Homo sapiens: one gene and its partner. The protein of the gene in region 2 purifies or fractionates together with the protein of the main gene of each other region. This does not show direct contact. Each region holds a gene or a part of one and is shown on either strand. Other genes may lie near its edges. The genes, in order: MYCBP2 and HHIPL1.

Region 1 (7,291 bases), on a different chromosome or scaffold from region 2:
TTTTTTTTTTTTGAGACAGAGTCTCGCTCTGTCACCAGGCTGCAGTGCAGTGGTGCCATCTCAGATCACTGCAAGCTCCGTCTCCTGGCTTCATGCCATTCTCCTGACTCAGCCTCCTGAGTAGCTGGGACTACAGGCACCCACCACCACGCCCAGCTAATTTTTTTGTATTTTTGTAGTAGAGACGGGGTCTCACTGTGTTAGCCAGGATGGTCTCGATCTCCTGACCTCGTGATCCACCTGCCTCGGCCTCCCAAAGTGCTGGGATTACAGGCATGAGCCACTGCGCCCGGCCTCAATCAATGTTTATTTGACAAATATATTCCCCATCTTAATGTCTGGATACATTCAATACTTTAAAAGCTGAGGCAACCTGAATGGCTGGTGCTGCCGAGAGCGCTTCGGTGAAACATATCATGCACATGTCATCGGCGTCTTGCTTCAGGCTTGTGGCACTTTTGTCACAGCCGTGTAGACAGGGCAGACAGTGCTCTTCGTTTTTAACACCCCCGCATGGATGGCCACAAGGATGCGTCTTACTACAGGCTATCTTAGCGTATTCCTGTTAAAGATGAATTACAATGTTACACAAGTATGTAAAAAAGCACACATTCTGGTAATTTTCCTTATTATATAAATTTCCAAAGATTACTTTCCCACAGGAAGTATCTATGCAGGCCAAGTAACAACAAAGTAAAGTTATTTCTAATCTTTGTTTGAATATAAATTAGGCTTCTTAACAAAGTTTTTTTTTTTTGATGCGATTTTTAAAAAATGCCACTCTCTATAAAGGGAATGCTGATAAGTGAATTATAATTTCATATTTGTCATCATGCACAGCTATAAAGCAAAAAGTTCCTGGCTGGGAGTCGTGGCTTACACCTGTAATCCCAGCACTTTGGGAGGCTGAGGTGGGCAGATCACGAGATCAGGAGTTTGAGACCAGCCTGACCAATATGGTGAAACCCCATCTCTACTAAAAATACAAAAATTAACCAGGCATGGTGGCGCGCGCCTGTAATCCCAGCTACTTAGGAAGCTGAGGCAGGAGAATCGCTTGAACCCGGGAGGCGGAGGTTGCAGTGAGCCGAGATCGTGCCACTGTACTCCAGCCTGGGCGACACAGCCAGACTCCGTCTCAAAAAAATAAAAAATAAAAAAAGTTCCCCAATGTATAATTTCCCAGTCACCACTCTCCGCATCACCAAAATGCAGATTTTTTTTTTTTTTAAAAAGGTACCTTTGACTCTCTGAGCATATCCACATTCTTATTAATTGAGAAACCAAAAACATTTGGACAACATAGAATATGTTTATATATGTTCAGGATTAAAGAACTCTTAGATGTTGAAAATGTATTTTAAGGAAATAAGTGAATAATGTCTGTAAGAGATAAAGGAAATACAGTTCATAAATTTTTAACTGTTTCTAGTACAAAAGTAGATATTAAATACATATGATCATGGTAACTGAGAAACATACAAAAAGAGTGTGGTTTGGGCTTGAGAGCCTTATTTGACCCATTCTTCAACTTTGGTAAGGCATTTGATGCTTCACATAGGTAATACACTCATTTAGGAAGCTGGAGTGACGCTGAGCTAAAACTCTTTTCTGTATGAAGTAAAGGTGTCACAGGGGAACATGGACAATGGGATGGCCTGTGTCACTATATACTCACCTGGCAATCTGCATCAGAACAAACACTGCCAACAGCAGATAACTCTGTTCCACTCCTGGAACCACAGAAGCGACATGCTTCTGAGCTACTCGTGGTGGGTTTGCCTAGGTTCAAGCAGAAAAATAAAAATCCTTCTTATGGATGTTTTCTAGATATGTTAACAGAACTAAATTTTAAAAAGCAAACTAGGTTTGTATAAGTTGCTATCCTTGGGAAATCAGCCTGACAGTTTTAGAACGGAAGGTTTCTAAGTTGTCCTAATTATAAAGTAAATAATGACACACAAAAAAAGAAATTAAAGACCTATCTGAAGCCAAATACACTCTCGACTAATATTTTTTTTCAGTGAAAGAAACAGACTAGACTTCTAGTCAAGTTACCAGACTGAGCAGCTGTTACAAGCCCCTGACTCCAAATGCACAATACCATAAAAAATATGATAACCAAAAATTAAATAAAAATACACAGAAGTTAGGGAAATCTTTAACTATATATAACAAAATTATAAGGCATGGTATAAAGCCTATCATCAGAGTATGAAACTTGAAAAACAGAATTCCTACCTCAGGAACTCTGCAATTTGAAAAGGAATTTAAATATGTTTGAAATACTTAAAGAAGAAACAGAATCAATAAAACAAGAACAGAGCAATAAGAAAAAGAACGTGAAGATTTGAAAATTACAGACCAAGCTGATTTTTAAACACAGATATAAAAATCTAACTATAATTAATATCAATATATTGAATTCAGCAATATTTACAGAAAAATCTATTTAAAAAGGATGGTTTACAAGGATGGTTTGACATTAGAACATTTATTAATGCAGTATACAGCACTGACAGATTATAGGAGGAAGAAATCAACTATGAGAAAAGAAGGTCATGCTCTTGCAGCATGCAAAGTCACCCTAGAATTAAATTGATTCGGATTTACACCTAACTCCAACACTGGAAGTTCGTGTCAGTCAAATGGCAGACTGCAGATGTGCTGAAAACTGAGAATTTGTAAGATTCAACATAACTTTGAACTAGGAATATACAAGATTTACTTTAGAAAAGCAGCAAAATGAAAACTATGTTTTAGAGATAAAAATACATTTAACATACATAGGTTACCTTTTGTTTTATGTCTATTCATTTTTGTTAATTATTTTATTGCTATCAATGGAAACAGTACCATTCACAACACCTTCAGAAGCATTAGGTCTACAAAAACCTCTAAATATCATAAAATCATACAACCTTATAATAAATAGAGATCTTAGTGATCATCTAGTGCAGCAATTTTTATTGTGGGGCAACAACTAGCAGAACTAGAAGGGAATTATCAATAGAAATGTATTTTATCTATGGAGCCCCATTAGTTGTGATCCTCTCACTTTATAAATGAAGTCAATGAGTTCCAGAGGTTAAGTGACTTGCTCGACACCACACAGCTAGTTAGTGGCAAATCAGGTTTCTTGACTTTTGGTCTAATGCTCTCTTCACCATAGAACACTCTATATATTTAGTAAATATATAGATCAATGATGTCATAATTAAACATCAGAATATCACTCAAAATTATTCACAGTTTAATCAGTTGGCACGGTTTAATCTTTTTTTGTGGGTTTTAAAGGCATGGCTCAATCTTTAAACCTTTTACCTGTGTGTTCTCGGAATTCCACCATTGCCTTCATTGTTTTAGAATCTGCCAGTGCCATCAACCAGAACAATTTGGTTCTACCACAACCTTCATGAAGGTCAACCTTTATAGCTTCTTCTTCTTCTTTGAAGACCTATTATTTCATTAAAGAACAGGGAAAAATATGCTTATTTATCACTCTGAAAGGGAGAGTATAAAATTTAATTATTCAATAATAATAATGGCTTTCATTTAAGCACTCTAAGAAGTTTTGAATATTTCCAATCTTCTCTTTAATCTTCACAGCAGTCCCTTTTTTATAAATGGAGAAATTAAGTGTTTCTAAGGATAAAACAACTTGCTATTTATAGATGGTAAGCGAGACAGCTGTGAACTCAACCAAGGTCTTTGATTCCAAAGTCCACTTTTTCCCCCTACTACACAAAGCCTCTTTCACACATTTATTTCAAAATTCACTGAACATATTTTATGCTCCAGAGACAAAAATCTTCACCTGTCTTTGATGAGTTTTGGTTCTTCGATGAAGGTGAAGGAATCTGTCACAGTCTGTACATAAATTTCCACAGACATTGCATAAAATGATTGCTGCAGTTTCACCATCATCATGGTTATCACACATAGGCTAAAATAAGACATTTCCACGTTACTTAGATTAACAAGCAAGTCTCAGACTCTCATACAAATTGAATATAATTTATTTACAAAAATAAACCGTTATTCGGAAGTCTATTAAGAATTTAGAATCTGAATATTAAACAGAATTATTGCAAATGTACTTAACTATAAAAATCTCTCAAAACTCCAAATCCAATCATTAATGTGCTTTGCAGGTTCAATGATTAATACAATGAACAGGTATACTTTGTTACTTAGAGACTTAAGAAATGTCTGCCCCATTATATATCTAAACATTCTGTATGCCAAAGGAAGAAACTGTTTATTTTTGAAACTTGAACATTAATAAGAAAATGGTGAAAGGGCCTATATAAAGTTTTCCTTTCTAGTGAACTTAAAGATACCCATCAAACCTACTTAAGTATATATGTGAACAGGTGGTGTGTCATGTTGCCTGTGTTATTGCTTTATTTCCTTCCTACCATAAGACTGATTACATTTTAGTAAAATATCTAGTCACTAAATCAGACTCTGGCTAAAAATAAATTTTGATATGATGCAAACATGACTCAGAGAAGAAGAAAGCTCTTTAATATACTTAAATAAAAGCCCCTAAAGTTTCCATATACTATGAAGTAGGGACTCTCTGAAATAGACTTGTGAGATGAACTTGGCCGAAGGGACACAATCTTTCAAGAGATCCACTAACTGTTTATGTTGATGTGTTTTTTGTTTGTTTGTTTGTTTTTAAGCTAAGCTAAAGCTTACTGTAAAGGAAAGCAAGATAAATTCTTACAAAATTCTGATCTTACCATTTGTTTTTGTTGTCCATCCTTTCCCATCCATCTCCCCGAGGAGAGACGATCTACGTGGTCCTGATCAAGAACACATAGGGATGCGAGAGCAAGCCAGAGCTGTTGAAAGGGAAGGCTGTTACACCACTGAATTTTTAGGAAAGACTTATGAAATGCTGACTGTGACACATCACAACAGCTCAATAAATGCTGGCTGATTTTGAAAATACATAGATACTCAGTGGCACTCAAGTCTTCCTGATGTGGTAGCAGGCATACACGATCACTGTCCTATGTGCCATGCACACAGGAGGCACTCAGATATCTACTGAACAAGTGACTGTTTCTCTGATGAACCACCCTGTCTTCTATCTGACAAATAAAATTATCCTTTATTGGTCTACTATGTAAACAACATATGAATAAATGAATTGGCATATTTAATATTTACTACTAATGTCTTCTGAATATTTTTCCATTTAGTATCATTAAATGCCAAAGAAGGTGGTACAGCAACTGCTAAATTGTGTACAGTCCCATGAGTAGTCAGGTACACATTAAATCCTTCTAGATAATAAAAGTTCCTCAGAAGTCTTTGTTGCCCCTTGTTGCCCCAGAAAGCCTAATACTATACTTGGTGCACTTTGTCAGAAATACATACATGTCTAAAAGCTTTAGAAAACTGTTCTCCAAAATAGGGCCGGGCACAGTGGCACATGCCTGTAATCCCAGCACTTTGGGAGGCCAAGGTGGGTGGATCACCTGAGGTCAGGGGGTTATGACCAGCCTGACTAACATGGTGAAACCCAGTCTTTACTAAATACAAAAAAAATTAGCCAGGTGTGGTGGTATATGCCTGTAATCCGAGCTACTTGGGAGGCTGAGACAGGAGAATCGCTTGTACCTGCAGGCGGAGGCTGCAGTGAGCCAAGATCGTACCATTGCACTCCAGCCTGGGCATCAAGAGTGAAACTCTGTCTCAAAAAAAAAAAAAAAAAAAAAAAGACAACTGTTTTCAGAAATAGTTAAAAATTTCTGAGGCTTAAAGGGTAAGCTTCAGTTTTATATAGAATGATATATCCCCTCATTAATGAAGAATAGAAAATGACTTAACTAGCTCAACTCTAAGAAGTGCATGTGAGTGTTATTGGATACAGAAAGCAAGAGATGTTAAAATAGGGACAGAAAAATAGAAAAAGAAATAATGCATGCAAGGAGGAAGGGGAATGCAGACTGAAAGAAAGCAACACATGAGTGGTAGGAAAGGATTACTGTCAAAAATACCTATTTCAGGTGTCACAGTCAATAATAGCAAGATAGCATAAATTGACTTTTTCCGCCCTAGGGATATATAGTTTATCTTCTTCAGATTTCTGAGGATTAACCTAAGCAATTTTTACCAGCATTCACTTCTTCCTAACGTTGTCAGACTGCCCTCCTTCAAGGAAATCTCAAATCTCTTCTGGAAGTATATGGGACATGAAATCTAGCAGGTTAAAACTTACTATAAATGTGTCATCTGAAGAATGCAATCTCATTTCCTCAAAGATTTCCACCCTGACCCTGCCCTGGACAAGCACTTCTTGCTTTTTAGAAGTAAGACCTATAAATCCTGTAAGTAAGTTACAGGGCTCTACATTAGGAACAACCAGGCATAGGCAGGGGTCTTGTCTCCAAAGGACCTTCGGTCTATCACAGCATAATGCTGGCACTAAACTTACTGTGGTAAACTACAGCAAACAGATCATTAGAAAGACAACACGCAAACAATGTACAATGTAATTAGCCTTTTCTAACCAGTGTACCCTTGGCTTCCTAAACAATAACAAAAACAAGTGACACAGAACACATAACAGTGAGAAGTAACGACTAGTTCATAATATAAAAGCCCTTTATACTTTTTCAATAAATACGGTATTTGGTTAAAAAATAATTATGTTGACTTAGTGATTAAAATTTGTTTAAATCTATTACTAAAAAAGAACACGCAATGATACACACCAAATTTAAAACAAAACAAAACAAAGCAAAACCTACTCTAGTTGTTGCAATACATCTCACTGGAGACCTAAATTCTTCTTCCATCTTGGTCAAGGCAATGATGGTTTCTGCAATAGCATTTTTTGTCACTCGGGACCAAGCTTCTGACAGATGACCCTATTGAGCAGAACAGAGTATTTTAATAAGTGACCAGAAATGTATTACCATAGTAAACTCTTTTTTCTTAAATAACATCTCCTATCAAAGGAAATATTTGTTTTTAGTGAGACCATGGAATTTTAGATTATGGGCACAAACTTTTGAACTAAAATTTCTTCGTGATCCTATGGAAAATTCAACTTCTAATCATCATTTTGATATTTAAAAATAAATAAATAAAAAATTAAGTTCTCAATACTCTTTTCCTGGAAATCAAGGGCAATTACTCTCACATCTGATAAAAACATAACAGAAATACTAAGGTTATCTATGTTTGAGAAGTTTGTCACTTAGCATAAAATTTACACAGTGAAGCTAACTGCTTTAGATGAGTATTACAGGAACCTAAAATATAAACA
Region 2 (5,232 bases):
AGCAGTTGCCGTTCCCATCTGTGAGCCAACAGTCTCCCCTCTCCCTAGGCACCAAGCCCACAGCTGTCCCATCACCACCTCATTTGATGCTCCCAGCTATCCTGTGATCAGGTAAGGGAACACAGGCTGCATACCAAGGCTCCAGGTCCCAGGGCTGAAAGCCCTTTTCCTGGGTGGGCAGCGCTGCCTGGAAGCACGTGGCCAACCACCTGCTCCTTCACTGGAGGGTCTGGAGTAAGCTATCCAATGTGGCAGCCATTGGCCACATGTGGCTTTCTGGTACTTGACATGTGGCTAGTCCAATTGAGATGTGCTATGTGTAAGATACACACCAGATATCATAGATTAATACCAAAAAAGAATGGAAAAAAAAGGTCACCAGGCACAGTGGCTCACAACTGTAATCCCAGCACTTTGGGAGGTGGAGGCAATAGATCTTTTGAGAACAGTAGCTCAAGACCAGCCTGGGCAACATAGGGAGACCACTTCTCTACAAAAAATGAAAACAAACAAACAAACAAAAAAACTGGCCAGGCATGGTGGCATATGCCTGTGGTCTCAGCTACTCAGGAGGCTGAGGTGGAGGGATCACTTGAGCCTGGGAGTTTGAGGCTGCAGTGAACAGTGATGGGACCACTGCACTCCAGCCTGGGTGACAGAGCCAGACCCTGTCTCAAAAAAAAAAAAAATTGATATTTATATATAGGTACCTGTTAAAATGATAATATTTTGAATATGTTGGGTTAAATAAAATATATTATTAAAATTAATTTTACCTGTTTTACTTTTTTAACATGGCTACAAGCAGATTTTAAATTACCTATTTGGCTCACATTATGTTTCTATTGGATAGCACCAGTATGGACAATGACTATGGCCCCTAGAACAGGAGGATTAGCATTACCCAGGAGCTTCTAGAACTGAAAATTCTCAACCAAGACTGAGTCAAAAACTCTGAGAGACAGGACCCAGCAACCTGTGTTTTAAGCAGCCCTGTAGAACTTGATTCTTCTCAAGCTTGAAACCCACTGGTGTAGATGACACCATACGAGGAGTGGTTTCCCAGCAGGAATTGTTGGGGAGATGCAGGCATAAGAGGTGGCTCTGAATTGGCTGCCTTTACATGGGTGGCCTGGCAGGGTGGAGGTGCTGTATCCCAGGGAAGGAGAAGGATCCGGCTCTGGGAGAATGGGCCTTGGTGCAAACCTGCCTCTAAAGCCCCGGGGACCACTTACATAACACCCTAGGAATCTGTCCCCTCATCTGGAAAACAGGGACAGTGATATTGAGGGTGTCTCGTGGAGCTGTTGTCAAGATTAAATGAGCTGACACACCCGAGGTAGCTGGCATGTAATAACTGCTCAGTAAAAGCTAGTTCTCAGTGGGGGAGGAGGGGCGAGGGGACAGAAGCGCGACAAGAAGACTTGAGTTCTACATGTTAGGCTGAAGGAGCTCTTTCTTCTGCTATTGTGAGAGTTTCTTCCCATGTCATTCTGATGCTGGTCCTTCACGTGGCATGCCCCTCCTCACTCTGTCGCAGACAGTTGGCTGCTGCCAGCATGGATGCCACCAGCCTCGAACTGAGCTTTCTGTCTAGGAAGCAACCTAGAGTGTACGTGCCATGCACGTCTGCAATGCTACCTCATTTTTCATCCAGTAATCCTTCTGGTGACCTCTATTTTGCAATGAGACTCAGAGAGGCACAGAGCCAGGACTGGAACCCAGTTTCCAGCTTCCTTGAACCTCCCAAACATTTCTAAGGTATCAACATGGTGACCCCTAGGCTCAGTCTAGGGCCTGGGATGTTGTGACCTCTGACTGATGTCTTGAACACAGTCCTGGACACTGGGCCACCCCTGCAGCATTGACCCTGAGGCTCCAGCACTAAGCTGTGTGGCACTGGGCAGGGCAGCCCCTCTCTGAGAATCTGATCCTGGCTATTGACTAGAGGTTGGATTAGAGGGGGTGAGGGTGAAGGCTGTGCCCCCATCCTCAGAGGCCCTGGAGGACTTTAAGGCAAGATCGGAGTCCCTGGGGACAGAGTCACATGTGAATGCTCCCTCAGCGGCCAGCTGTAGGTGGTGGAGTGAAAGAAGCACTGGACAGGCAGCCAGCTCTGCCCTTCTCTGAACTTGTGTCCCAGTGGGGTGGGGCTGGCTTTCAATGCCCTTGAGGTGGCCCAGCAGGAAGGCCCACAGCAGGGTCCCAGAGCTGGACTACCTGGGCTCAAATTCAAATTTTGGCTATGTGACATTTGGTAAGTGACAAATGCCCTGGAACTCGGCTTCCACGTGAGTAAATGTGCATTAATATGAGGATTACATGAGTGAATGGTATGTTAAACTTTCAGAGCAGTGCTTGGCATGTAGTAAGCGCTCAGCAGAGGTCAGCTGTTGTAGAAAGTAAAAGTTCCTCTTGAAAGTTTCCCTTCTTGTTAAAGAATAAATCGTAAGTGTTAGAAATAATGGTTTCTTTTAAAGACGAACTTCCTTCAAACCTCCTTGCTTTATGCTAATAACTCTTTGTCAAGCCCTATTCTATGTAACTGTTAGACGTGCTCACAGGCACATAGTACGTTCTATGTCCTTATACTTTAACCAAGATATCTGTGCTGGACGTGCTCACAGGCATGTCCCAGCTCACAGCCTATACCCCTTCCTTATTTGGGAATATTATTACTTTTCTAAGTCCTTTCGTAAGCAACTTCCTCTTTTCCTTTATCCTTCCATTACTTTTACCTATTTAGAAAAATTTTAAACAGCCAATCGGGTTTTAGTTTAGATTGTGCGGTCTGGCTTCTGCCAATGGACATAGGACACAGTAGCAGGGACAAACTGCATAAGGGCTAACAATTGCTTCCCTCCTTTGTTCAGGTGTCCTCTCACTATTGTTCCATCTGCGATGAGCACCCTTTCTGCAGAAAGTAAAATTGCCTTGCTGAAAGAATTAAATTTATGTTTTAGTGCTATTTCTTTCCAGCATCGGGGAACAAGTATTTACATATAACAGCTGTCCACTCTTATTACTACCTAGGGCAGAGGTCTCCAAACCCTGGGCCACGGACCAGTACTGATGGGTGGCCTGTTAGGAACCGGGCCACACAGCAGGAGGTGAGTGGCAGTGGGGCAGGGTAGTGTGGGGAGCAAGCATTCCCACCTGAGCTCTGCCTCCTGCCAGATCAGCAGTGGCATTAGATCCGCATAGGAACATGAAACCTACTATGAACTGTGCATGCGAGGGATCTAGGCTGTGAACTCCTTATGAGAATCTAATGCCTGATGATCTGAGGTGGGACATTTCATCCCAAAACCATCCCCCCAACCCCCATCCATGGAAAAATTGTCTTACATGAAACCAGTCCATGATGCCAAAAAGGTTGGGGACCACTGACCTGGGGACTGTGGAGTGAGTCCCCAGGAGGCAGGCTGCAGCCTAGCCCAGGCCTGGTTTGGGGCCTGAGAGGTGATGAGTTGGAGGCTGGGGAGGAAGAGCGCCTGGCCTGGAAGACTGAAGGCCAAAGCCCGAACTGCCCAGAGAAGTACTGGAGGGCCTGAGGCCGCACCCAGAGCTCCCTTTGCCAACCCTCCTAATCCAGCTCTGAGCAAAACAGCTTCTGGGGCCAGGCAAGCAGGGCCCTGGCTCGGCTGCATTCTTGAGGGCCTCAAGGCTTGCTGCACCTTCCCTGGCTCCAGTCTCAGCGTGGCCTCATCTGGCAACAGGCCTGGGACACTCAGCCTCCCTGAGCTCACTTCCTCATCTGCACAGTGAGGAATTCGGCTGGGATGGTCATTAACGGCCTGCTATCTCCTAACACGCCCGGCGTCAGAGCTCAGAACTCCCCTGCATCCCAGGAAGATGCCCACTCAACCTCCCCTGGGCCACTGGAGGCCCGAGAGGAGCATGAGGCCAGCAGCGGGGGCACCTGCCAGGCAAGAGGAGCCCCCAGGGATCTCCATCAGCTGCTTCCCAGCCAGGCTGGCACTCCCACACCAGGCAGGAGCCCCAGCACACCGCTCTCTGCAGGCATAGTGTAGCTGGGGAGGGCAGTGGTTAGGGTGCGGGGACTCTAAACTAAGCTGCTGTATTCAAACTTGACTTCTCCCTTCCCTGGCTTGGTGCCCTAAGATATCTAACCTCTGTGTGCCTCAGTTTCCCATTCTGTAAAGCACAGAGTATGAGGAGTCCAAGACAGTGACCTAAAGCTTTCTGCTGCAGCCCAGGATCCTATACTAGTGGCTAGGAGACCCTATACTAGCAGCTAGGAGACCCTGCCAGACTCATGCCTGCCCCAAGGCCTGCCCAGCCACCCCTGGTGCCAGCTCCCAGAACTTGGCACAGCATCACCCCCTCCCAAAGCCCCCCCATAGGTTGGGTTTGGGTGCCCCACCCAGACCTCTTCCAACCCCCGACATGGGCCACATCCTGTCTTCACTGCCTGGTGACTCATCTGCTTACCCACCCCCCACCCGTGCTCCCATCCGAGGCTGAGCGCAGTCATACTAAGTGCCCCTCTGCGGCCTGGCACAGAGCCAGGGCCGAGCATCCCTGGAGTGAAGGAGCTTCCACCTGTGATGCAGGTGGGAAGCGGGAGGCCTCACCCCTTTCTCCTGGTTCCCACCCCGGCTCCCACACAGGTGCAGGTCAGAGAGGAGGCAGGAAAGTGGTGTGTAAACAGCCACATTATTGGCATAGCCCTGGGTGAAAAAGTGTCAGTAGTTTCACTGGACCCCCAGCCTGGTCAGCCCCGAGGTAGGGCTGGAGGAATCAGGTCTCCTGGGTTTACACTGAGCAGGGATGGGGATGGAAAGGACAGAGGTGGCCCCAGGGCCCAAACACAGCTTTGAAAGTAGTGGAGGCCCACCGACTCACTGGAGGGCCAGGGTGAAAGCTCTGCCCAGCTAGTGTGGGTGGCTTCTGCCCCAAGAGCAAGAGAGAATCAGGCCTCAGGGTTGGAGGAGGCTGGTCCCATCCCAGGAGCACCCACAAGGACTGAGTATGCTGCTGAGTGGCTTCTCCAGCATACGGCCTTGGAGGTCATCCAGTCCTCACAGCCATCCTCCCTGAGCAGGTGCTGGCTCCTCCACGCAGCCTGCCCCTCCAGTGGGGCCCCAGGCCTGCAGCTCACCCTGCTCCCACCTTCCAGAAGGCTTTCCCTTCCCCACTGGATGCCTTCCGGTTCTCTCCAGCGCCTCTGACTGCCAGGGGGTGGGGGGGATGCGGGCACCAGGCCAT

What was found.
Region 1: the proteins of HHIPL1 (region 2) and MYCBP2 purify together in Homo sapiens (co-immunoprecipitation; 2 studies listed by BioGRID and IntAct, with this or other methods). This does not show direct contact.

The regions. Positions count from the first base shown.
Region 1 is NC_000013.11:77,057,845-77,065,135, forward strand, and holds part of MYCBP2 (E3 ubiquitin-protein ligase MYCBP2), read right to left. Parts: intron 6,891-7,291; coding exon 6,771-6,890; intron 4,854-6,770; coding exon 4,752-4,853; intron 3,947-4,751; coding exon 3,818-3,946; intron 3,458-3,817; coding exon 3,325-3,457; intron 1,783-3,324; coding exon 1,679-1,782; intron 563-1,678; coding exon 374-562; intron 1-373. UniProt on the Homo sapiens protein: Atypical E3 ubiquitin-protein ligase which specifically mediates ubiquitination of threonine and serine residues on target proteins, instead of ubiquitinating lysine residues.
Region 2 is NC_000014.9:99,676,104-99,681,335, reverse strand, and holds the end of HHIPL1 (HHIP-like protein 1 isoform a precursor), read right to left. Parts: 3' UTR 767-5,232; downstream 1-766.